Linked DNA regions of Homo sapiens. The protein of the gene in region 1 purifies or fractionates together with the protein of each later gene. This does not show direct contact. Each region holds a gene or a part of one and is shown in the gene's direction. Other genes may lie near its edges.

Region 1 (5,864 bases):
TTATAGATAAATGCATCATGCTGCCTTTCAAAGTAAGTTAGTAGAGGACAGAGATTAGGTCAAATAAACAAATTCTGTAGAAGATCTGATATTCCATAGGGATAATAAATACTGAGTGGCATTAAAAGTCAAGGGAAGTAAAGATAAAAGAATCCTAATGAGATGTATCTTACTTTCAGATTTTCTTATTCTATTTATTATTTTACCAGACACTCCTGAATTTTAAAACTAGTGTAATTATATGTAAGGAACAAAATGTCACAGGAGACAAGGTTACCTTTGAAAGTCAAAGAACTCATGTTCTGAAATGTAAGATACATAGCCTTTACCTGCAAGAGCTTTGTTCAGTATTAATGTTTGGGATCATGAAGGGAATCCGTGATACTGCCATGGTTGCTTAACTGTGTGACATGCTCTATATCCAGACCTATAGCTAGCTGTGCATTAGAGAGTAGGACTATGTCACAGCCGTATAAAGGCATTTTGTGTAAAAATACATGGTCAATGAAGGACTTCAGATGGAGAATCATGATTTATATTTGTGGCCAAAAATCAGGGTTTTATTGTTTGCTTGCTAATCTATTAATTGGCTATCCACCATGAAACAGTCTTACATGAAGGGAAACAACACAAAGAGATATCTTTTTTCATCATTATGAATTAATGAATTTACATAGTGCTCAGCAGATACTGTAGAGAAATTCTAGAGTTTCCTGAGTTTTCTGTGCACATGAAGTAAATATAAAACTTTCACATCTTTCAATCCTCTAATTTCTGCATAGGTGTATTTTCCCATAATTTAATTGAATAAAGGTATTTTCATTTTGTTTGGGAAAAAAGTACCAATTACTTAAAACATTATTTGAGAAATACTTCCTAATGTGATATCAAATATTTTTAGTTGGTTTAAAAAAAAGCTACTCGATTATTTGACTCTAAATAACTTTTATTTGATGTTTCTCACTTTAACAACAATTAGTTGTTAAAGGGGGGTCCAGGTGAAAACATTTTACTCTGGCCAGGTGCAGTGGCTCATGCCTTAATCCCAGCGCTTTGGGAGGCTGAGGCAGGAAGATTACTTGAGGCCAGGAGTTCAAGACAGCCTAGGCAACACAGCATTCCATCTCTACTAAAAATTTAAAAATTAGCCAAGCAGACCAATGTGCACCTGTAGTCCTAGCTACTCAGGAGATTCAGGTGGGAGGATTGTTTGAGTCCAGGAGTTCGAGGCTGCAGTGAACTATAATGGTGCCACTACGCTGCAACCTGGATGACAGAGCAAGACCCCATCTCTACAAAAAAAAAAAAAAAAAAAAAAAAAAAAAAAAGACTCTAAGATACAGTACTAACTTCCAAGCAATAATAAAGAGATAGCATTGGGGTATTAATGGTTCTATAATCATTTCTAAAATATCCAGACAAGAACAAGGCAATAATAACAATGATTAATTTTAAAAATTATCTTATAGCAAGCTACCGACTAGAAATACTATAATCAGTTGGACATCTAGCAGGGTGGATCATGTTATGGACTCCGTGGCTCGGAAGTCGGAAGAGCACTGGACCTGTGTGGTGTGTACTTTAATCAATAAGCCCTCTTCTAAGGCATGTGATGCTTGCTTGACCTCAAGGCCTATTGGTAAGACTGAATTTTGATTTTGAGTTTGTTACATTTCTAAGAGGGTTAATTATACAAAGTCAGGAATATATCTTGCTCCATCTTGATATTCCATAACTAAATAAAATTTCTTTCTCAAAGGTTTAAAGGAATTGCCAGTTTTCACATGTAAACCATGCTAATATTCTGTTGAGTATTTTTTTTGAACAGGGAGGGAAAGCATGTTTGTGCTATAACAGTATGTGCCTTTGTATCTCAAAAAAATGGAGATGATCACATCTGTTCTCTACTGTTTCTAATGAATTATTCAATAAAGCTTTGTTTTATGCAGATTTCAGCAACTTTCGAGTTTGTTATTCAGTCCAAGTGTTGCATAAATTGAAAGGGAGGATTTCTGTAAGAATCTCTTTGCAGGTGGAATAGAAAAATGCTGAATTTTTTCTCTTCTTTATCCCTTCTACCCCGTGCTATTAAAATCTGTATCCAGACAATTGTACTGATTTCATTGAAACCCTTCAAAATAACTCTTTATAGCTCACGATTTCATGCATTTAGGGCATGTAAAACCTCAGAGGAAACCTGTGATTAAGAGCCATCTCATTGCAGCGGCTTCTATTGTGTTCTCAAAGTGTTATTTCTTTCTTCAATTAGAGATGAGAAAGTTCATTCCTGACTTACGCACCCCTGCATTGTGTCAACTGTCATATTGTGTTTTGTTTCCTGGGCCAGAAAGGCAGACATCACCCCTTGCACAGCTTTGCTGTGCTGCATCTCCTGTTTCCATCCCTCCCTCTTCAGTGTCCTTCAGCAGAGGCGGAGCCCATGGAAAAACACAATCTTAGGTTGCCACATTGATTTCAACATTCTGAAATGCATTTATATGTCTCATTAACTATTTTCTTGTTAATGTTTCTGAGTCAGAAAGACATCTTAATGATAATATAGAATGTATTATAGTACAGATTCCAAAATCCTAGGATACTCTGTTGTGAAACATTGTATTTAATAGATGTTAAGTCTGGCCAGTCGCGGTGGCTCACACTTGTAATCCCAGCACTGTGGGAGGCTGAGGCAGGTGGATCATGAGGTCAGGAGATCGAGACCATCCTGGCTAACATGGTGAAACCCCATCTCTACTAAAAATACAAAAAATTAGCCAGGCGTGCTGGCGGGTGCCCGTAATCCCAGCTACTCGGGAGTTTGAGGCAGGAGAATGGCGTGAACCCGGGAGGCGGAGGTTGCAGTGAGCCGAGATCGCGCCACTGCACTCCAGCCTGGGCAACAGAACAAGACTCCGTTTCAAAAAAAAAAAAAGAAGATGTTAAGTCTTTGTAATTCATCTTTACTTATTTTAAATAAGCCTTTCACTTTGTCTTGTCATTCCTAGTAGTCTAGAAACAGGTCTCTAACTGCTGACCTAAAGCTTTATGGGATATCATCTCTCAACTACCACTTTTTAATGCTTTGCCTAATATTAGCAAAACTGATAACTGAGTGACCTTTAAATGCTTAAACATCATAAAAAGCAAATATAAATCTTTGTTAAACCCATGTCTGGGTTTCTGTAAGTCGAAATTTTGCATTTTACATAATATTTCATTTCCTAGCCAGAAGATGATTAATTCTGACTTGTCTGAGCTAACTTTGTGTTATTAGTTCTATATATTAGTTCACTGTAATAAAGTGAAGTAAATTTTTTAATCAAATAAAAAGATGTTTCACATAATCAGTATGTTATATTTATGGGACTATTGCAGAATTACTTCTCTCTCCTTCCAGATTCAGTGCTCAAGAGTGAAGAAAATTCTACTGTCTTTAGCCACTTAATGAAGTACCCGTGTAATACTTTTGGAAAACCTCATACAGAAGTCAAGATCAACAGAAAAACTGCATTTGGAACTACAACTCTTGTCTTGACTGATTTTAGCAATAAATCCAGTACTTTGGAAAGAAAAACAAAGCAAAACCAGATACTAGATGAGGAGTTTCAAAACTCTCCTCCTGCTAGTGTTTGTTTGAATGATATACAGCACCCCTCCAAGAAGACAACAAACGATATAACTCAACCATCCAGCAAAGTAAACATATCACCTACAATCAGTTCAGAATCTAAATTATTTAGTCCAGCACATAAAAAACCGAAAACAGCCCAATACTCATCACCAGAGCTTAAAAGCTGCAACCCTGGATATTCTAACAGGTATGATGCTTTTAACCTTGGTCTTTAAGATAATTGCTTTTTTTTTTTTTTTTTTAAGACGAGGTCTCACTCTGTCACCTAGGCTACAGTGCAGTGGTGTGATCTCAGCTCACTGCAACCTCTGCCTCCCGCGTTCAAGCGATTCTCCTGCCTCAGCCTCCCAAGTAGCTGAGATTACAGGCACATGCCATCAGGCCCGACTAATTTTTGTATTTTCAGTAGAGACGGGGTTTCACCATGTTGGCCAGGCTGGTCTCAATCTCCTGATCTCAAGTTATCTGCCCACCTCCGCCTCTCAAGGTGCTGGGATTTACAGGCTTGAGCCACCATGCCCGGCTGGTTGCATTAAGTTTTAAGAAGACAGAAATTGTCCCTTGGTAAGGAAGTTGAATTACTTTTGGTAACATGAATCAAACCCTAAAAGACTATTATAGTAGTCTGTCTCCCTTCCCTTCTCTAGATTATAATGTTAGAGAAGGGAAGGAAATGAAAAACGTAATTTCCTACATGTATGAAAAGTTGGGTTTTTTTTTTTTCTGACAATAACCATACACATGATCAATACAGAATATTTGGAAAATATTGTAAAGTATAAAGAAAAATATTTGTCACCCATAATCATACTGCTTATCAATAACCAGTTAGCATTTTTTAATATTTCCTTCCAATGAAAGATAGTCTTCCAAAAGGGGAACTATTTTTTATAAAAGTTTAGTAAGTATACTGTGTTCTAAAAGGAGGGGTCTGAGGTGCCTGTAGTGACCTTTCTGTTAAAGAACGTGGATGGATCTCAAACAGTCATGCGAGATGGTGTTTATTTTTATTTTTATTTTTTTCTTTGAGGTGGCGTTTTGCTCTTGTCGCCCAGCTGGAGTGCAATGGCACAATCTTGCCTCACTGCAACAACATTCGGCTAATTTTTTTTGTATTTTTAGTAGAGATGGGGTTTCGCCATGTTGGCCAGGCTGGTCTCGAACTCCTGACCTCAGGTGATCTGCCCACCTCAGCCTTCCAAAGTGCTGGGATTACAGGCGTGAGCCACTACGCCTGGCGTTGTTCTTTAACTAAAAGTCCTAAAAAGCATACTTGCTACTTTGTATCTGAAATTCAAAAGTTGTAATTCTAACTAAGAAATACTACCAGAGCAGATATATTTTATAGGACTTCCAGCTACATGTCCAGGAGAACACCCTCATTTTTGTCACCTGTGATACAGAAATTTTAATACATAACGTCATCCTCTCTTTTCCTTAATGATTATCGGCAGCTCCTGAAACAATTTTCTGTTGACCCTCCTTCCCCCTTTATCTGGCCCTCCCAGTCCCTTTATCTGGAATTCCTAACTATGGCAACCCGATGTTATATCTCCAACACAGGACACATTTCTCCACCATTTTCTTTTCTCAGCTGCTTTCTTTTTTCCTTCAGAAAGCAGCTGACTTACATCCAGCATTTTTAAATAAGTGGAGAATTTATAACATATAAATGGAGGGTCGTCCTCCCATGTATGTCTTTTCTTGCCAATGGGAGACAGGCAGAGAAGGAGTTACAGTCATCCCTCGGTATCCTCAAGGGATTTGTTCCAGGACCCCCAGGATACCAAAATCTGCAGATGCTCAAGTCCCTGATATGAAATGGCATAGTCCTTGCATATAACCTATGCACACCTTTTCATATATTTAACTCATCTCTGCATTACTTCTTATAATACTGAATTCAATATAAAGGCTGTGTAAATAATTGTTATACTGTATATTTTGTGTAATTTTTTTATTGTTTCATTATTTTTTGTTTCCAAATATTTTCGATCCAAGGTTGGTTGAATTCATGGATTGGGAACCTACGGCTATGGAGGGATGTACTTTGGTTGGGACCTAGAGTAATCTCAGGTGGAATTCTGAGATTCACTGGCTTTTCCTCTTATTAGCTGTGCCTTTACTGATGGGTAGATGCCTTCTCTCAGCGGTGGGGTGAGGGACCATTTGGTGTAAACTCCTAGAGCAACCTGTAGGAATCCTTAAGCTTATTTCATAACAAATTCTGAGA
Region 2 (5,864 bases), on another chromosome or scaffold:
TCCCATTTTAAAAATAGTTAAGTGGTTGATAATACAGTTATCTGTAAATAATTGGAATTCTTAGGTTTGATACATTTCCTCTGTAAATGTATCAAAGTTGTTCAGAGTTTCTGAACAACTAAGGGTTATATAATATTTCTTGGTCCAAACAAAACCACATAATCTCTAAAATAAGGTTTCAGGGAGCATGTATATGGACAGGATTTCACAATGTCTTCGGTGAAATAATGTTAGATATGCTCAATTTTGGGGATTAAGATTAAGGAAACAAAATAATACCATTCAAAGAAATAATACAATTCAAAAATCGCATCTTGAATCAAAGGAAAATTAATGTAGATTGTTTAAAATTAACGTGCATTTCAGTTACTCTAAATTTCTGTTTATTTGTATTTTTCCACGTGTATGGGTTTTACAACAAGCTTCCCAAAGCTTTCAGAATTGTTGTAAGCATCCCTGACCAGGAAATAAGACTATTGTGGGTTGTTTGAAATGTCTCACCACATTATGGATGCTCTTTATATTGAGAGATAGTAAAGAAGGTTGATGCGTAATAGATTTTAAAACATTTTATTAAACGAGATAAGTGGAAGGAATTAGAATATATCTTGTAGTAAGGATTTCTATAACTTCTAAGAAGTCTGATTTATCTTTTAATATTTATCCAGTTTTCATATATTTTTGATTTTATTTTGCTTTTCGATCTCCTTATTACATGAGTGGTGTTATAGGGAGGGTTTAGTAGCTTTCTTTTTCTTTAAATCATCTTCTGGCCTCTTGCTATAGCTTCATTTGGTGGGGACCTTTATTTACATGTGGAGGATACAAGGAAATATAAGTCATGACTCTTTCCCTGAGAGTCCAATCTATTTAATGGAAGACAAAACCTTGTCTCACATATATACACAGAAACAAAGCTAAACACTTCACAGATTGAGAAAATGTGATAAATTCCAGATGATTGTTTAGATAATGTATGTTCTTGGAAATTGAGAGAAAGAAGTCACTGTGAGTTGAGAGAGCCAAAGTATGTTTTATAATGGATGGATAGGATTTAGGTAGAGGGTACTCAAGAGGAGTGGAGGATAACGTGAATAGAGGGTGGAGACATGACTGGCTATGACATGTTTGGGGAAACAAGGAAGATAAGGTTGGAAGGAAATATTAGCGTTAGATTGTGGAGGATTTGATTGGTAGGCTAAGGATTTTGGATTGCCTTTACACTGTTGTGGCTATTAAATATTTATAAATAAGACCGTGCTAGGATGAATGAAGAAGATGAATCTGGTGTGTGGAAGATGGGTTAGCATGGGAAAAGATTGGAGAGACAGTGAGATTGGACAGTTTTTTAAAATTGTTATTATTGTAATAGTCCAGAAATGATTGAAGCCCAAAATTGGGGCATGAGAATGAGAAAAGAAGAATTAATGGAACTTTATTGGCAGGGAAAAGATGGGGAACCAAAGAGAGAGGCAATAGTCAGATGACTCTAAAGAGGTTGAGCCTGGATTATAGGGAGAATGGTAAAAATAGCAAAGTCAGGTTTGGAAATTGCTTGTGAAGAATAGGCCTACAGATAAATTCAATTTTAGATTCGTTGTGTTTGAGGGGATAGTGGAGCAATCATGAGAAAATGACCTGTAGACTGTTGGAGATACAGAACTGAGCTCATAATTACAGATAATGATTTAGAAGTCATTTGCACAAAGGTGCAAGTTGATATAATGGTAAAGGGAGAAACAATGGAGGGAAAAATGAGGGTGAAAGATGAAGGTTGAACAAAGAGGAAGAGTGGAGGAGGTAAGCCATCAAGGCCTCCAGAGTTAGGACAGCCAGGTATCATGGAGCCCAACACTTCTAAAACAACATTTTGTTAAAGAGAATAGTCAACAGACAGATTTGGTTGTTTTTTCCCCTTCAAATCTTATAATCTTGTCCTCTTTTTCTGTTTAGTTCCACAGCTGTTTATTGATAGCTGTTACTGAAATTTTATTACCCCGTCAATCTGAACTTGGTAAAGACTGAATTTTCCTTTTTTTTTTTCTGAGATGGAATCTCACTCTGTTGCCCAGGCTGGAGTGCAGTGGCGCGATCTTGGCTCACTGCAACCTCCGACTCCTGGGTTCGAGTGATTCTCCTGCCTCAGCCCCCACGAGTAGTTGGGATTACACGCGTGCACTACCACGCCTGGCTAATTTTTGTAGTTTTAGTAGAGATGGGGTTTCACCATGTTGGCCAGGCTGGTCTTGTACTCCTTACCCCAAGGAATCCGCCTGCCTTGGCCTCCCGAAGTACTGGGATTACAGGCGTGAGCCACCGTGCCTGGCCCAAGACTGAATTTCCTTTAGAGACAAAAAATCCTTTTTCTGGGTTTGTAGTATCTAGCATGAATTTTCTTCGCATGATGTTTTATGTTTAACATTGAGCATTCGTTCGTTCATTCATTCATTGTGTCATTCAGGGTGACCTATCAGGTGACTTCAGCTTTTTCAGTGAGTCTGTTCTTGTTCTTCCCTATCTGGACTTTGGACCTCTCATGTATTATAGGAACAAAACTCCTTTTACATTGGTTGCCTTTTTCTGTTATTTTGACTTTTGTTGATTTGTGTAACTGATACTTACTTATTAGTGTGTATTATGTGCCACGTGCAGTCCTTTAGTTCTAGAGTTGTTTTTGTAATCCCAAAAATAAGGTTTTCAAATTGTTTCTTCTCTACCTCCTTTACTAGATTCATGCTTAGAAATGGAAACTTCCAAATCTTTTGGTTTCAGAAATTTGCTGGTGTATGTCCTTTTAAACTACCTTACCTACTAAACAGCTTTTTTGTTGAGACACTAATGATGAATAGCATCCGTAATCTGAAATTTGAAGTGCTCAAAATCTGAAACTTTTTGAGTGCTGACATGACGCCATAAGTGGAAAATCCACCTGACCTTGTGAGATGGGTTGCAGTCAAAATGCAGTCAGAACTTTGTTTCATGCACAAAATTATTAAAATATTGCAAAAAATAACCTTCAGGTTGTTGTGTATAAGGTATGTATGAGACGTAAATGAATTTCTTATTTAGACTTGGTCCCCATCCCCAGGGTATCTTATGTATATGCAAATATTTTAAAATCTGAAAAAGTCTGCAGTCTGAAACACTTCTAGTTCCAAGCATTTTAAACAAGGGATACTCAACCTGCAGTAGTTTAGAATAATGTAGCTGGAAGAACTCTGATAAGTGGCTATCCAATCTTTTCTCGAACACCTGTAATTTTTTTCAAGAACTAAGTAAGTTCAATCTTCATATCATGTATAAATGCTAAAATAGTCTGCAAATACTAAGATACATTATGATAACCATTCACTTGTTTCCTAGAGCATTCAAATTAGTCAACTTTGGTTTTCTGTAGGTCAGATTCTTTCCAGTGTCCTAATGGTTGTCTTTCTTACTGTCCATGTTACAGTTTATAAGGATTATCGGGAGCTATTTCTCTTTTCCGGACTTCCTTATCTTCTAATTATTTTGTCTAGGGCCTGTAATAATTTCTCAGTGATTTTGAGTACCTTTGAAAACAGAATAAGGGATGGAGTTTAGTTAAGTCTATTTAATCTTTGCAGAGGAAAAAATGCTTATGATTTGTAAATTAAATAGGAAAAACAAGGCCGGGTGCAGTGGCTCGCTCCTGGAGGGCTGAGGCCAGAGAATTGCTTGAGCCTAGGACGGGGAGGTTGCAGTGAGCCGAGATTGTGCCACTGCACTCCAGCCTGGACGACACAGTGAGAACTTGTCTCAAAAAAAAGGAAAAACAAAAATGGTTGGGAGGGTTATAGATACATTTGTTTTGAAGTTTGACATACTTTTCATGAAAATATCTTGCTTGTAGCATATTTATTGGCACATCGCTTCATGATGCCTGTTAAGAACATGACCTTTCCACTTCTCTTCTGGCTGGTGGAGGTGTAGCAACGGGTGAGCGGAGGAGACAGAAGGGAACCAGTATTAGTCAAATAGTGCCTGTTGAGTTCTAACACTGTGCTGTTTGTCACTACTATTTCTTATTAGGGAGTTTTTCAGAATGTGGAAGATAAATGTAAATGAAATTTCTGGTGTTAGTCTTTGAGTTTTTCTTCCTTTAAATTATCTTCCTGGGCTCTCTTGACCTAGTGCTTTCCCATCTTTTCATTCTTCTTTTTTTCTTTTCCTCAATCTTTGGCCTATCATACTTATCTTTGTCTTCACTCTCTTGAAGAATTCATCCATTCTTACAGCTTCAATTATTATTATCTCTATGTACATGATACCCAAATCTTTATTTTTAGTCTTTTGTTTCAAACCTTAAATATCTGACTGCCTTGTAAGCATTTCTACTTGGATGTCATGTTAGTCTCAAATCCCTCATATTCCAAAACAAGCTTCCTCCCATAAACTTATCTGTTTTGTCATTAATTCCACTATTGTCCCTGTCGCTAAACTGAAATTTTTGTTGTGAACTTTTTTGACAGTGTTAGTCCACACATTGGGTTATTACAGCAGATTTTGGGTAGCATTTTCGAATCTGGATTATTGCTGTCTAATCCCCTGTATGCCTTGCCAGTTGAATTGATCTGTTTTGGGGGTATATTACTCTTGGAATGAAAAGACCTGAGGTCATTAAATCTTTGAGCCTTAAAGTTGTATCTCTGCCAGTGTTCCTAGTTTGTGAGTTAATAGGTGTTATTAGTATCAATTGCATATCTGGTTAGTTTGGACCAGACTTTTTTGGATGTTAGTATGTTGCAGGAACTTCTTTTAAAAAAACAAGTTACTCTCCTAATTCATTTTTATTCATTCAGCAAATCTTTGTATAGGGCCTAAACTTGGATTGAAATCTAGGCTCTGACATGTATTTGCTGAAATATTTTAGGGAGTTATTTTAACCTCTCAATGCTGTTTCATCTTCAGAAAAATAAGAGGGGATAAAAGTACTAGATTGTTGTAAGAATTGAATAATATAGTCAAAGCAACTATCATAGCATTTGGTATTTAGTAAGCATTTGTAATATTGTCATATTTATAATATTTCTGTTATATACTAGTCAGTGTGCTTAGTCTAGAAGTTGATATTTATTGTCGTCTCTAAGTACAGAGTAATTTATCTGGCACCTCAAGCCGCTCATAAATTCATAATCTAGCTGTGCGTTATTGACGTCTAAGCCAATTGTAACTGAAAATTGAGACATTTATTAATAGATTCAATAAATGGGGAAGATCTTTTAGAGACTGTTTATTTGTTTAGTTGTGATTTATAATATGGTATATACTTTGTGCCAAGGGTTTAGTTGGATATAAAAGGCAATTGGGAACTAATTTATGGAGATTGAGTTGTTATCTTGTTCTCTTTCTGTGTGTATCTTTTATACTTTCAGTGTGTGTTCTGTAAATAGGCCCTCTTGCACTACAGGCACCCTGTGGGTGTGTAGAGACGTGGCTCAGAGTAACGGCTGAGATATGAATTGGTTAATTCATTAATCTTTTGAGTCAGAAATGTTTTTTTTCCGCCCAGTCCGAAGTGCCGTGGCGCTATCTTGGCTTACTGCAAGCTCCACCTCCTGGGTTCACGCCATTCTCCTGCCTCAGCCTCCTGAGTAGCTGGGACTACAGGCGCCCGCCACCGCACCCGGCTAATTTTTTGTATTTTTAGTAGAGACAGGGTTTCACCGTGTTAGCCAGGATGGTCTCGATCTCCTGGCCTCGTGATCCGCCCGCCTCAGCCTCCCACAGTGCTGGGATTACAGGCATGAGCGCCGCACCCTGCCCAGAAATGTTTTTAATCCAGAAGAAGGAACTACATATAAAATTTTATGTTGAATAAAGAGTAAATTCTCAGTTTTAGATTA
Region 3 (4,704 bases), on another chromosome or scaffold:
TTTATATGAGCCAAGGGGGTAAGTTGGCTTTTTTTTTTTTTTTTTTGGAATTAGCTTAATAAAAGGAGGTTAGGAGGAGGGCAGCAATCAGGAGAAAAAGAAGCCAAACTGAAGGCTATACTGAAATATGAGAAATGAAAAAAGGGATGTTTTTAAATTTTATAATGTAAATTGTAATAAATTGGTATATTTGTTGCTTGTGTTTGTTTTTCCCCTACAGACGTATGACCTTAGCAGACATTGAACGGATTGCTCCTCTGGAAGAGGGAACTCTGCCCTTTAACTTGGCTGAGGCCCAGAGGCAGGTGAGCAAAGAGGAGCAAACTTGCATTCTGGGGTTTCCTTAGCAGGATACCCCAACCCTGTTCCACTTGCAGTTGCCTTTGCGGCATTGGTATCTGACTTAACCATTTTTCTGTTTTGCACCAAAACTCTCGATAAATTTTAAAGGCTGTAAAGAGAAATTGCTTAGAAATGGTGTGATAAACAGGTATTTGGCATTTGCTCATTTCTTGCTAAGGTGGAGTGATTTCCTAACTGCACCAGAAGCCTAATGCTCCGAAAACATGAAGGAGGTCTTTTCTCCTTTCTTGAAGTCTCATGTTGAGAGATGTAGCGAAAGAATCCCGTGTTGGTGTCACTGTGCCTGTCGGCAGCTGCACGTTGCTAAATGAAAGCCGTCTTTGCTCTGTGGAGCAGCCCTTCATCAGCGCATCGTCTAACTGCCATGCCTTCCGTTTTTCTGAATATCAAAATGAGATAATTTTGTTTAGTCTGGAGTTACAGTTTAAAGGCTTTCAGACCTATTTTCTCTGTGAAAGGATTCATAAGTTATATGGAAACAATTTTAGGAATGCTAAATTTTATTTTATGGTTAACAGAAACCAATCTCTTGAAGTTGTGGGAGTCAGAAACTTAAGACATGGAACTTTCTCCTTTAACTCTTACCCAGCTTTCTGTAGATCAGGATTAGAGAAGAAAAGCCTTCATAGCATGTGTTAGTAAAATAAATGGTGTTTGTAAAATAAATCCACTCACAGGCGAGTGTCGTTTTTAGAAAAATTTCTCCTTTTAGGCAGAGCCATCTCTGAATCCTGTGAGACTTCGCAGTTTCTGGCATGGAGCTCTGGGTTTGTACAGAGACGCCAGTGTGACCACAATGGGTTGCTGCAGGCTACACTTTTAGGACTGTCAGACCTTGAGCCAGGGCCCCCTTCTTTTAGCTCTTTCCCACCCAAATGCAGCGGTGAGTTTTGTGTGCAGCATGCAAGTCAAAGTAGTGGGTGTGTGCTCAGTAAATTCTAACGAGCACCTCTGGAAAACCAGCTGGCCTTGCTTAAAAGAGGAAGCCGATTTCTCTGAGTGCAGGAGAAATAACTATAATCACGTGTAGAGGTGGAAGCAACACTGCTCTCCCTTCCCTTTGATTTTTAACACTGCTTAGGAGATGATTATCTCTTCGTCTGTATGCCACCAGCTATTGTAGAAATTTGGGGATTAAGAGAAGCAGAGAAGTTTTTTTTAGATCCCTCCTACTCTTCAGCTGGCAGCGGCTTCCCACAATTTTTCCTTTAAGCTCTTTGCAGCTTTTGAGAGTTTATGATGGGTGCTTGTTGATACTGGCCATGAAAGGGTTAGACCAGATTGATGAGATTTATAGCAGGAAATGATTCGCTGCCGCTTAGAGGTTTAGAGCAATTCACAATGGCCTTACCTGGAATAGGCTTTTTACTGCATGAACCCTAGTGGGCCCGACAAATTCAAGCAAGGGAGGTCGTCCACCTGTGGGCACAGCGCTGCCTGTCCAGCACTGTGCAGCACTTGTAGCATTTATCCTGGACAGAGGAGTGAAGGAGCAGAGTTTTGTCTCATTTCAAGAACATGCTACAGTTCTGGCTTTGGAAAAGTTAAATAAAAGTCTAGGATTTCATTTGTCTTTTAGGAGAGGAATTAATGGTGGTGGTAGGTCCCTCCTCCCCCCACCCTCTATAATTTTCAGAGTATTTTCACTCATTATTTTGATGCCAGAACATTTCTAAGTATTGCATATTTATATCCCTGTAAATAAAATATTGCTTCTCTTTTGGATGCATCTGTCAAAATGAAGGTACTATTGATTTCCATCTATATAGGGCTACAGTTGGAAACAACTCATAGAATTTGCAAAAGAAATGTTTTGTATCTTAAAGAGGCATATTTCTATGTAAAGCTATTTTCAGTTAAGTGACTTTGAAGGAGATTCCAAATGATCTCATTGTATTAGAATTGTGTTACATTGACAGCAACTAAAATTCAGTGGGTTGATAGCTGGGGTTGCTGATTATTTTCATTGTTCACTGATTTTAATTATCATGGATTCTGAAAAACAAATTTTATTGAATGTATGTATTCATTCAACAGGTATTTATTAAGCACTGACTATATGTCACCCTCATTTGACAACTCTCTGTGACATAAAATTACTGTTTTATTTATGCAGACAGAGAAGTGCAGCACTCTGAAATGTTCTGGCATCAAAAACACTGTGAGGATAATAGGTCAAAAGAACCAGAAAACAATGACTGACTGACCTGAAGTATGAATTTAGAAAAGATGGACAAAAAAAGAGAAAAAGTAACGATCAACTGTAATACAGCCACCTAGTTTTAGCTACTGTAAATGTTTTGAGTATCTCTGGGTGGTAGGGAGGCAAAATATTAGTATTAATTTTATATGCATATATATGTAAACCTCTTACAAGCATTTTTAATAAAAAGTGACATCATTTTGTATATAGTCTTAAAAATTGTTTTTAAAAAAATTACCAGGAAATAGGTCAAACATTTAAATAGGTACAAAGAATCATATGACAAATACCTATCTACTTACCATGCTCTTTTTAGCCTATGTTTTCTTTTATAATTCCTTGTGAACATTTAATATCAAATATTCTTTTACAGTATCATTTTGAATGATAGGGTTTTGTTTTAAAGTTATTATTTTTAAAGGCTATAGTCCTCCGTTATTGGACATTTAGAATATTTCCCAAATTTTTGTTCTTTTTGTTTAAAGAGCAAAAATTTGGGAAATAATCGAAATTTCCAATAAGTACTACAAATGTTTTTTAAGTGCTACATTCTTGTAGCTTGTTACATGCATGATTATCTTCTATCCTAACTTTTTTCTTTTTGAGACGGAGTTTCACTCTTCTTGCCCAGGCTGGAGTGCAGTGGCGCGATCTTGGCTCACTGCAGCCTCCGCCTCCCAGGTTCAAGTGATTCTCCTGCCTCAGCCTCCCAAGTAGCTGAGATTACAGGCATGCGCCACCACGTCCGGCTAATTTTTTATTTTTAGAAGAGACGGGGTTTCTCCATGGTGGTCAGGCTGGTCTCGAACTCCTGACCTCAAGTGATCCACCCACCTCGGCCTCCCAAAGTGCTGGGATTACAGGTGTGAGCCACTGCACCCAGCCTATTCTAACTTCAGAGGTTATGTACATTTTAAGGGTTTGGGTGTATATTACTAAACATCTCTCTATTTATGCTTGCTTTAATGGCAAATTTCAGAAGGCTTGTTATCAACTTTTGCCAGGCTGGGTATTGCCACTTAAAACAAAAACAAAAATACATACAAACCAAAAACCTGCCAATTTGATTGATGAAAAATGATGTCTCATTGATGTTTTTATTTGCTTTATTTACTTTATTTTATTTTATTTTTTTGATACAGTCTCACTCTGTTGCCCAGGCTGGAGTGCAGTGGCGCGATCTCGGCTCACTGCAAGCTTCACCTCACGGGTTCACGCCATTCTCCTGCCTCAGCTTCCCAAGTAGCTGGGACTACAGGCGCCTGCCACCACACCCAGCTAATTTTTTTCTTTTTTTTGTATTTTTAGTAGAGACGGGGTTTCACCATGTTAGCCAGGATGGTCTCAATCTCCTGACCTCATGATCCACCCACCTCGGCCTCCTGAAGTGCTGGGATTACAGGCATGAGCCACCGTACCCGACCTATTTTTATTTTTGAGATAGAGTCTTGCTCTGTTGCCGAGGCTGAAGTGCAGTGGCGTGATCTCAGCTCACTGCAACCTCTGCCCCCTGGGCTCAAGTGATTCTCCCTCCTCAGCCTGAGTAGCTGAGACTACAGGCACATGCCACCATGCTGGTCTAATTTTTGTGTTATATTATAGAGATGGGCTTTCACCATGTTATCCAGGCTGGTCTTGAACTCCTGTGCTCAGGTAATCCGCCCGCCTCAGCCTCCCAAAGTGCTGGGATTACAGGCGTGAGCCACCGTGCCTGGCCTCAGTGATGTTTTTAACTGTGCATTTTTTTTAATGAGAATTTGAAAATAGGCTTATAACATCATTTTTGTCAAAGGATGGTTTTGATTATATTGAAATTTGGTTTTAAACATTAATAGCACTAAAATCTTTTTATTAATAAGAACTTATGAAATCCATTCCTACTTTTTTCCTTGACATTTTAGTTGTATCATGGATTTAGAACCCAATGAGTAATGTTTAAAGTTAATGTATGGTCATTTTTGTTTTATCTTCTTTTCTGTCACCTGTTTTCCTGCTCTCTGATTCCTGTGCATGCAAAGCAGAAGGCCTCAGGTGATTCAGCTCGACCAGTTCTTCTACAAGTTGCAGAGTCGGCCTACAGGTTTGGTCTGGGTTCTGTTGCTGGAGGTTAGTCATGGATGAGAGAAAAATTTTCACTT
Region 4 (5,864 bases), on another chromosome or scaffold:
TTGATTTTTGAGACGGAGTTTCGCTCTTGTTGCCCAGGCTGGAGTGCCATGACACAATCTCAGCTCACCACAACCTTCGCCTCCCAGGTTCTAGTGGTTCTCCTGCCTCAGCCTCCCGAGTAGCTGGGATTACAGGCATGTGCCACCATGCCCGGCTAATTTTTTTGTATTTTTTTTTAGTAGAGATGGGGTTTCTTCATGTTGGTCAAGCTGGTCTCGAACTCCAGACCTCAGGTGATCCGCCCACCTCGGCCTCCCAAAGTGCTGGGATTACAGGTGTGAGCCACCGCGCCTGGCCTAGCTGTGTTTTTTTTTTAAAGATGCTTTCTTCTCCACATGCCTGTCTGTGCCATCCTCCACCCACCCCAAATGAGCAGGAATCCCCAGACACAGGACTTGCCATGCCATAGGAGCCTGAAAGTTGGATTAGACGTAACTTGACAACTGAAACTCTACTGTGAATGGAAACAAAACACTAGATGTTCCCACTAAACTCTGACCTTGAAGAAGTGGCTTTCCTTGGAGCCTTGGTTTCCTTCTCAGTAAATAGAGACTTGGCTACCCCCAGTGGATGTGGTGAGACTGGCCCCGTGCCCTAAATTAGAGAAGTGGCTATTTTAAGTGGAAAGACCCTTTGTAAGGCCAGTCTGGGTGTACAAATGATGTAAACAGCCCCAAGATGATCCTTGTCTAGTACCGAGCCATCCAGGGATTCGACCCTATTTGCCCCGGAGCTGGGCCAGCCTCAAATCCCCCGTAATCAGCTTGTGACTTCAAGGAGCTCAGCTTTGCCCAGTGCCTCCTGGTCACGGGGTGTCGGCCCAGAGCTCTGCTCAAGTACCAAGGGTACAGCCATCCAGCTCCCTGCTTCCCCAAGACTGGCAAAGCTGGGGAGGCCTGGAACAAAGAGGAAAGTGTGCAGTGTTGGCTTGGGGCCTGCAACCTCACCCCTTCCCCCACCTCACTCCTGGGCATAAAGGTGATAAAGCCGCTCACTCAGTCTGCAGTCTGGTAACCGACGTCCCCATGATGGCGGAGGCTGGGAGGCCTCCTGACCAGATTCATGGGCTCAGAGAGGCTGTGTCCAGGCCTGCAGGCCCAGCCCTGGCTACCCTAACAAGCCTCCAATTGTTACCTCTCTCCACGGGAGGGGTGGACTGGAGCCTGAGGCTCTGTCTTCCAGCCACCAGGCCTGGCAGTAGCTGATGCATAAACATTAGGGTTTTGCAGTAACTGAGCAGGGCTCCCAGGCCTTGAACCTGGGCAGAAAGAAGACAGCATCTCCTCTCTTTGTGACCACACTGACTTGCCTCCCTGAGGCTTCTGCACCCTGGAATGGGAGAGAGCTCTTGCCAGGCCTCAGCTGATGGAGCCTTTGGCTACTGAGGCCTCTGCTGGACAGGAAGTCTGCCTATGTCTCCTAGCCCAGTTTATCTCCCCCTGCCCTGGCATTTGGGAGTGGGGAGGAAACGGCTCCATCAGAAACAGCTCTACCATTGGACCTTAGGCCAGCCACACTTCTTGTTGGAGCTTGTGTCCTCAGCTGTACTGGGGATGAGAGCTAGCTGTCTGGGTCAGCGGCACTGAGGCTCCAGGGGAGCATGTGGTCTGTGCAGCAGGCTTGGGGAGTGCTGAGCAGCACAGATTGGGTTTCATAGCACAGTGGGAGCCCAGACAGGCCAGCTAGCCATAAGCACCTCTGCTGGAGGAAGAGGTGGACTCTCTTGGGCTGGAGGGCCCAGTTCAAGGAAAGAAACAAACAGCTACACTGGGCTCCTTGATCACCCAGCTGTGGCAGTTCTTCTTGAGGACTTCCTGCCCCTAGGTGGGGGCTGCCTTCAGCTCCCTGCTGCGTGTGATAACTTGGGTGTGGCCCTCACAGCTGTGCAGAAGCTATTCCCAGAGGGTTCTGGCCCCAGGTAAACAGATTCTGCTCTGGGCTCGCCTTGCCTCCATCCCACAGCCCTGTGTGCTGTCTGTGGCACAGCCTAGAGCAGCACTGCCTCGTGGCCCTGGCCCTTATGCGGCTGGAGCTGATCCTGAAGTCCAGTGTCCCAGCGGTCATGGCTGGCATCATCACCATCTACAACCTGGTGATGGAAGTCCTTATCCCCAACTCGCTGATCGACTGCATCAGCCTCTACGGGAATCTCCTCCAGCCAAGCGCTAGGCTGAGTGTGGGCCTGAGTGGCCCGGCAGCCAGCTATGTCATCAGCACTGTGGGGGACACAGTGCTGCCTAGAAGCCCGGGCTATTTGTGGGCTTGATCCTGATCCTCATTTTCACTGCATGGTCTCATTCTCTCCACAAAGTAGCCTTTGAGCCCACCAGCCACAGAATGTGATATAAAGATCACCCCTGCTTATTCCAGAATGAACAGCCTGAGACACATATCCCTTCAGTAGTTGGTCTTGTGAATGCAGTGTCCTAGTGCAAATGCCCATCATCTGTTGACCCCATCCTTGCCCCTGCCTGCCCCATGCTGTGGATATCTGGGCCCCCTCATCACCCATCCTGGCCCCCTGACCAGTGAGGATGCCCCCTCCCATCTAGGGTACTCTGCGTCTAAGGATGAATTCCAGTGTAATTTTCTCTCTTCTGTAGGTTTATTTATGGAAGATTGGACCTGTTCATACATCTGTGGGGCAGCCCTCCATCTCCCAGCTATATAAAGTCTCTAACCACAGTGTTGCATTGTGGGGTTACCATGTGGTCTGACACTTCCTTGCATGAACTACCCTCACTCCAGCCCTGGACAGTCCAGGGCCTAGCAGGCAGTGTGTGGGGCCTACCAGGTCCTGGCATCCAAGCTGTGTCCAATAAAGTTCTTAGATGTGACTGGAAAAAAAATTGGATTAAAAAAAAGCTTCAGAAGTTACAGAGCCAACTACAGAGAAGCATAATAAATGAAAGAGTGTCTTCTAGTTTTGACAGTTTGGTGTTTACCCTAAAGACTTCTCTTTGTGCATGTGTAGATACATGCCTATAAATAGAATATTTGTGTAGTTGGATCCCACTTTCTGCATAGTTCTTTGCAACCCATTCTGTTCACCAAACCAACCCTTAGAGGTAAATACTGGCAGTGTTTCTCTCTGCACATACAACCAAGTGCCACTATACAAGTTCACTAACTCCCTGTTCCTTACACAATATGTACATCCTATTGCTTTTTTTCCCCCCTGAACAATCTACCCTGGTACTCTTCATAACACATACATGTTATGTGAAACACAGATGTGTTTCATTCTTTCCAATAGCTGCATAATACTTCATTACAGGCATGTCCCACCATGATTAAGAAATAGCAGCCCCATCACCTTCTTCATACCACTCACCACCTGATGTATTACATGTATTTATTTTCTGCCCCAGCCTTCAACTAACCTATCAAGTTCCATAGGCAGGGATTTGGTATAGTTTTATCGCTGAATTTCCATTGACTAGAAGAGTGTTGGGAGCATGCATTCAGGCATAATCTTTCCTTAGCAATATCATTTATTCATAGAAGATCCTCTCTTATGGAGAATTAACTGAAGCTTAGAGGAAGAGACTTTTTTTTGAGACGGAGTTTCACTCTTGTTGCCCAAGCTGGAGTGCAATGGCGCGATCTCGGCTCACTGCAACCTCTGCCTCCCGGGTTCAAGTGATTCTCCTGCCTCAGCCTCCCGAGTAGTTGGGATTACAGGCGCGCGCCCCCCACGCCCAGCTAATTTTTCGTATTTTTAGTAGAGACGGGGTTTCACCATGTTGGTCAGGCTGGTCTTGAACTCCTGACCTCAGGTGATCCGCCCACCTCAGCCTCCCAAAGTGCTGGAATTACAGGCGTGAGCCACCATGCCCAGCCAGGAAAGGACTTTTTTAAGGTCACACAAGTGGAGGAGCTGGGACTTAAATGTGTCTGCTGAGAGTGACAGTGAACTTTGCATGTGCCCAATCTTACCAAATTAATGTTCTCTTAGTTGAATTATTGCCCATCTCACCACCAAATGTGTATCTTCTCAGGGGTGTCAGTTTCCCCAGGGTCCAGATCCTGGCCCCACACCCACACATGGCCAAGGAGCCATTTACATTTAACATTCCATAATAGGATGCATACCTTTTCGGTTATTTAGGGAGGATGTGGTTTTGCCTGGAAGGCTTTGAGAATGCTGGGCAGCTAGCTCAGGGGACGTGGGGCTTAAAGCAGAGGCCGATCAACTTTTTTCTAAAGGGCCAGATAGAGCGTAAATATTGTCAGCTTTGTTGGACATGTAGTTCTCGGCCTGCCACTCAGCTTTGCTGTTGCAGTACAAAAGCAGCTGTAGACAAATGAGTGTGGCTGTGTTCCAATAAAACTTTATTCATGGTCACTGAAATGTGAATTTAATATAATTCTTACATATCACAAAATATTAGTCATTGTCTTTTTTTTCTCCCCAGCTACTTAAAAATGTAAAACTCATTCTTAGCTGCCATAGTTTGCCAACTTTGGCTTATAGCAAATGCAGCAAAGTGGCCCAAAGGTTTCTGAGCCTGTGCCCGGGCTGTCTCAGCTCAGAGTGGGCAAGGCTCAGAGAGTTGCTTTTATGGAATTTGACCTACATAGAAAGCACCAGGTAGAAACCTTGTTTCCTTCAGGGACCAGTACCCGGAAACAAGGGGGAGGACCTAAGCAGGAAAGCCATAGAATTTGGCATCAGAGACCCCCAATTGGAAACTTCCCTGAAGCCTAGAGTCCCCTGGTTCTGCGCTTTTCCCTCTCTCTCATTTCTCATCTGTGAAAAGGGAGTAATCGCTCCCCAAAAGCTTGTTCATGGTGGTTAATCAGAATGTGTGAGCAGCCTCTGGCAGGGTGCCTCAGCTCGCTGCTGCTGCTGCTGCTAAATGCACCAGCCCCCTCCTCTCAGTTCTACTTTGAAGACTGGCGAGTGCCTTCTGCCTCGAGGGCAACCAGGGGTGTCTGGAGGTTCAGTCATGCAAGGGTCTTGATATCATTGGAAGGCTTAAAGGAAGTGGCTTCAGGAGCACTTAATGCTTGAGGTCACCCTAAGGTCAGGTTTTGGACTGTTAGTCCATCACTCTTCTTTTTTAAAAGGCTTGGCAGGATGGAACCGGTCAGAGGGTAGAATGCCAGGCTAGGAAACCAAACAACTCTAGTCCCAACCCTGGCTTTTGTTTGTATGCTAGGCTGGGCACCTGCCCTCTGACCTCAGGTGCCTCCTGTCAAGTGCCGATGTTACAGCAGTCTGCAATTTCTTGAGCTTCTTTCTTTCTTATTGCAGCCAAAGCTGTCTTATTTTTTTTTCTTTTGAGAGTGTCTCACTCTGTCGCCCAGACTGGAATGCAGTCGTGCAATATCTGCTCACTACAACCTCCGCCTCCCAGGTTAAAGTGATTCTATTCTCCTGCCTCAGCCTCCCAAGTAGCTGGGATTATAGGCATGTGCCACCACACCCCACTAATTTTTGTACTTTTTTTTTTTTTTTTTGAGACAGAGTCTTGCTCTGTCGCCCAGGCTGGAGTGCAGTGGCGCGATCTCAGCTCACTGCAAGCTCTGCCTCCTGGGTTCAAGCCATTCTCCTGCCTCAGCCTCCCGAGTAGCTGGGACTACAGGCATGCGCCACCATGCCGGGCTAATTTTTTTTTTGTATTTTTAGTAGAAACGGGGTTTCACCGTGTTAGCCAGGATGGTCTCGATCTCCTGACCTCGTGATCTGCCCGCCTTGCCTCCCAAAGTGCTGGGATTACAGGGGTGAGCCACCGTGCCCGGCTCCAACTTTTCTATTTTTAGTAGAGACAGGGTTTTGCTGTGTTGGCCAAGCTGGTCTGGAACTCCTGGCCTTAACCAATCCGCCCGCCTCGGCCTACCAGAGTGCTGGGATTAT

What was found.
Region 2: the proteins of NEIL3 (region 1) and ROCK1 purify together in Homo sapiens (affinity purification with mass spectrometry; one large-scale study listed by BioGRID and IntAct). This does not show direct contact.
Region 3: the proteins of NEIL3 (region 1) and SLC25A13 purify together in Homo sapiens (affinity purification with mass spectrometry; one large-scale study listed by BioGRID and IntAct). This does not show direct contact.
Region 4: the proteins of NEIL3 (region 1) and SLC2A1 purify together in Homo sapiens (affinity purification with mass spectrometry; one large-scale study listed by BioGRID and IntAct). This does not show direct contact.

The regions. Positions count from the first base shown.
Region 1 is NC_000004.12:177,349,911-177,355,774, forward strand, and holds part of NEIL3 (endonuclease 8-like 3), read left to right. Parts: intron 1-1,469; coding exon 1,470-1,639; intron 1,640-3,397; coding exon 3,398-3,818; intron 3,819-5,864. UniProt on the Homo sapiens protein: DNA glycosylase which prefers single-stranded DNA (ssDNA), or partially ssDNA structures such as bubble and fork structures, to double-stranded DNA (dsDNA).
Region 2 is NC_000018.10:21,104,236-21,110,099, reverse strand, and holds part of ROCK1 (rho-associated protein kinase 1), read left to right. Parts: intron 1-5,864. UniProt on the Homo sapiens protein: Protein kinase which is a key regulator of the actin cytoskeleton and cell polarity.
Region 3 is NC_000007.14:96,184,895-96,189,598, reverse strand, and holds part of SLC25A13 (electrogenic aspartate/glutamate antiporter SLC25A13, mitochondrial), read left to right. Parts: coding exon 1-18; intron 19-220; coding exon 221-305; intron 306-4,584; coding exon of another isoform or gene 4,585-4,587; coding exon 4,588-4,672; intron 4,673-4,704. UniProt on the Homo sapiens protein: Mitochondrial electrogenic aspartate/glutamate antiporter that favors efflux of aspartate and entry of glutamate and proton within the mitochondria as part of the malate-aspartate shuttle.
Region 4 is NC_000001.11:42,948,671-42,954,534, reverse strand, and holds part of SLC2A1 (solute carrier family 2, facilitated glucose transporter member 1), read left to right. Parts: intron 1-5,864. UniProt on the Homo sapiens protein: Facilitative glucose transporter, which is responsible for constitutive or basal glucose uptake. Has a very broad substrate specificity; can transport a wide range of aldoses including both pentoses and hexoses.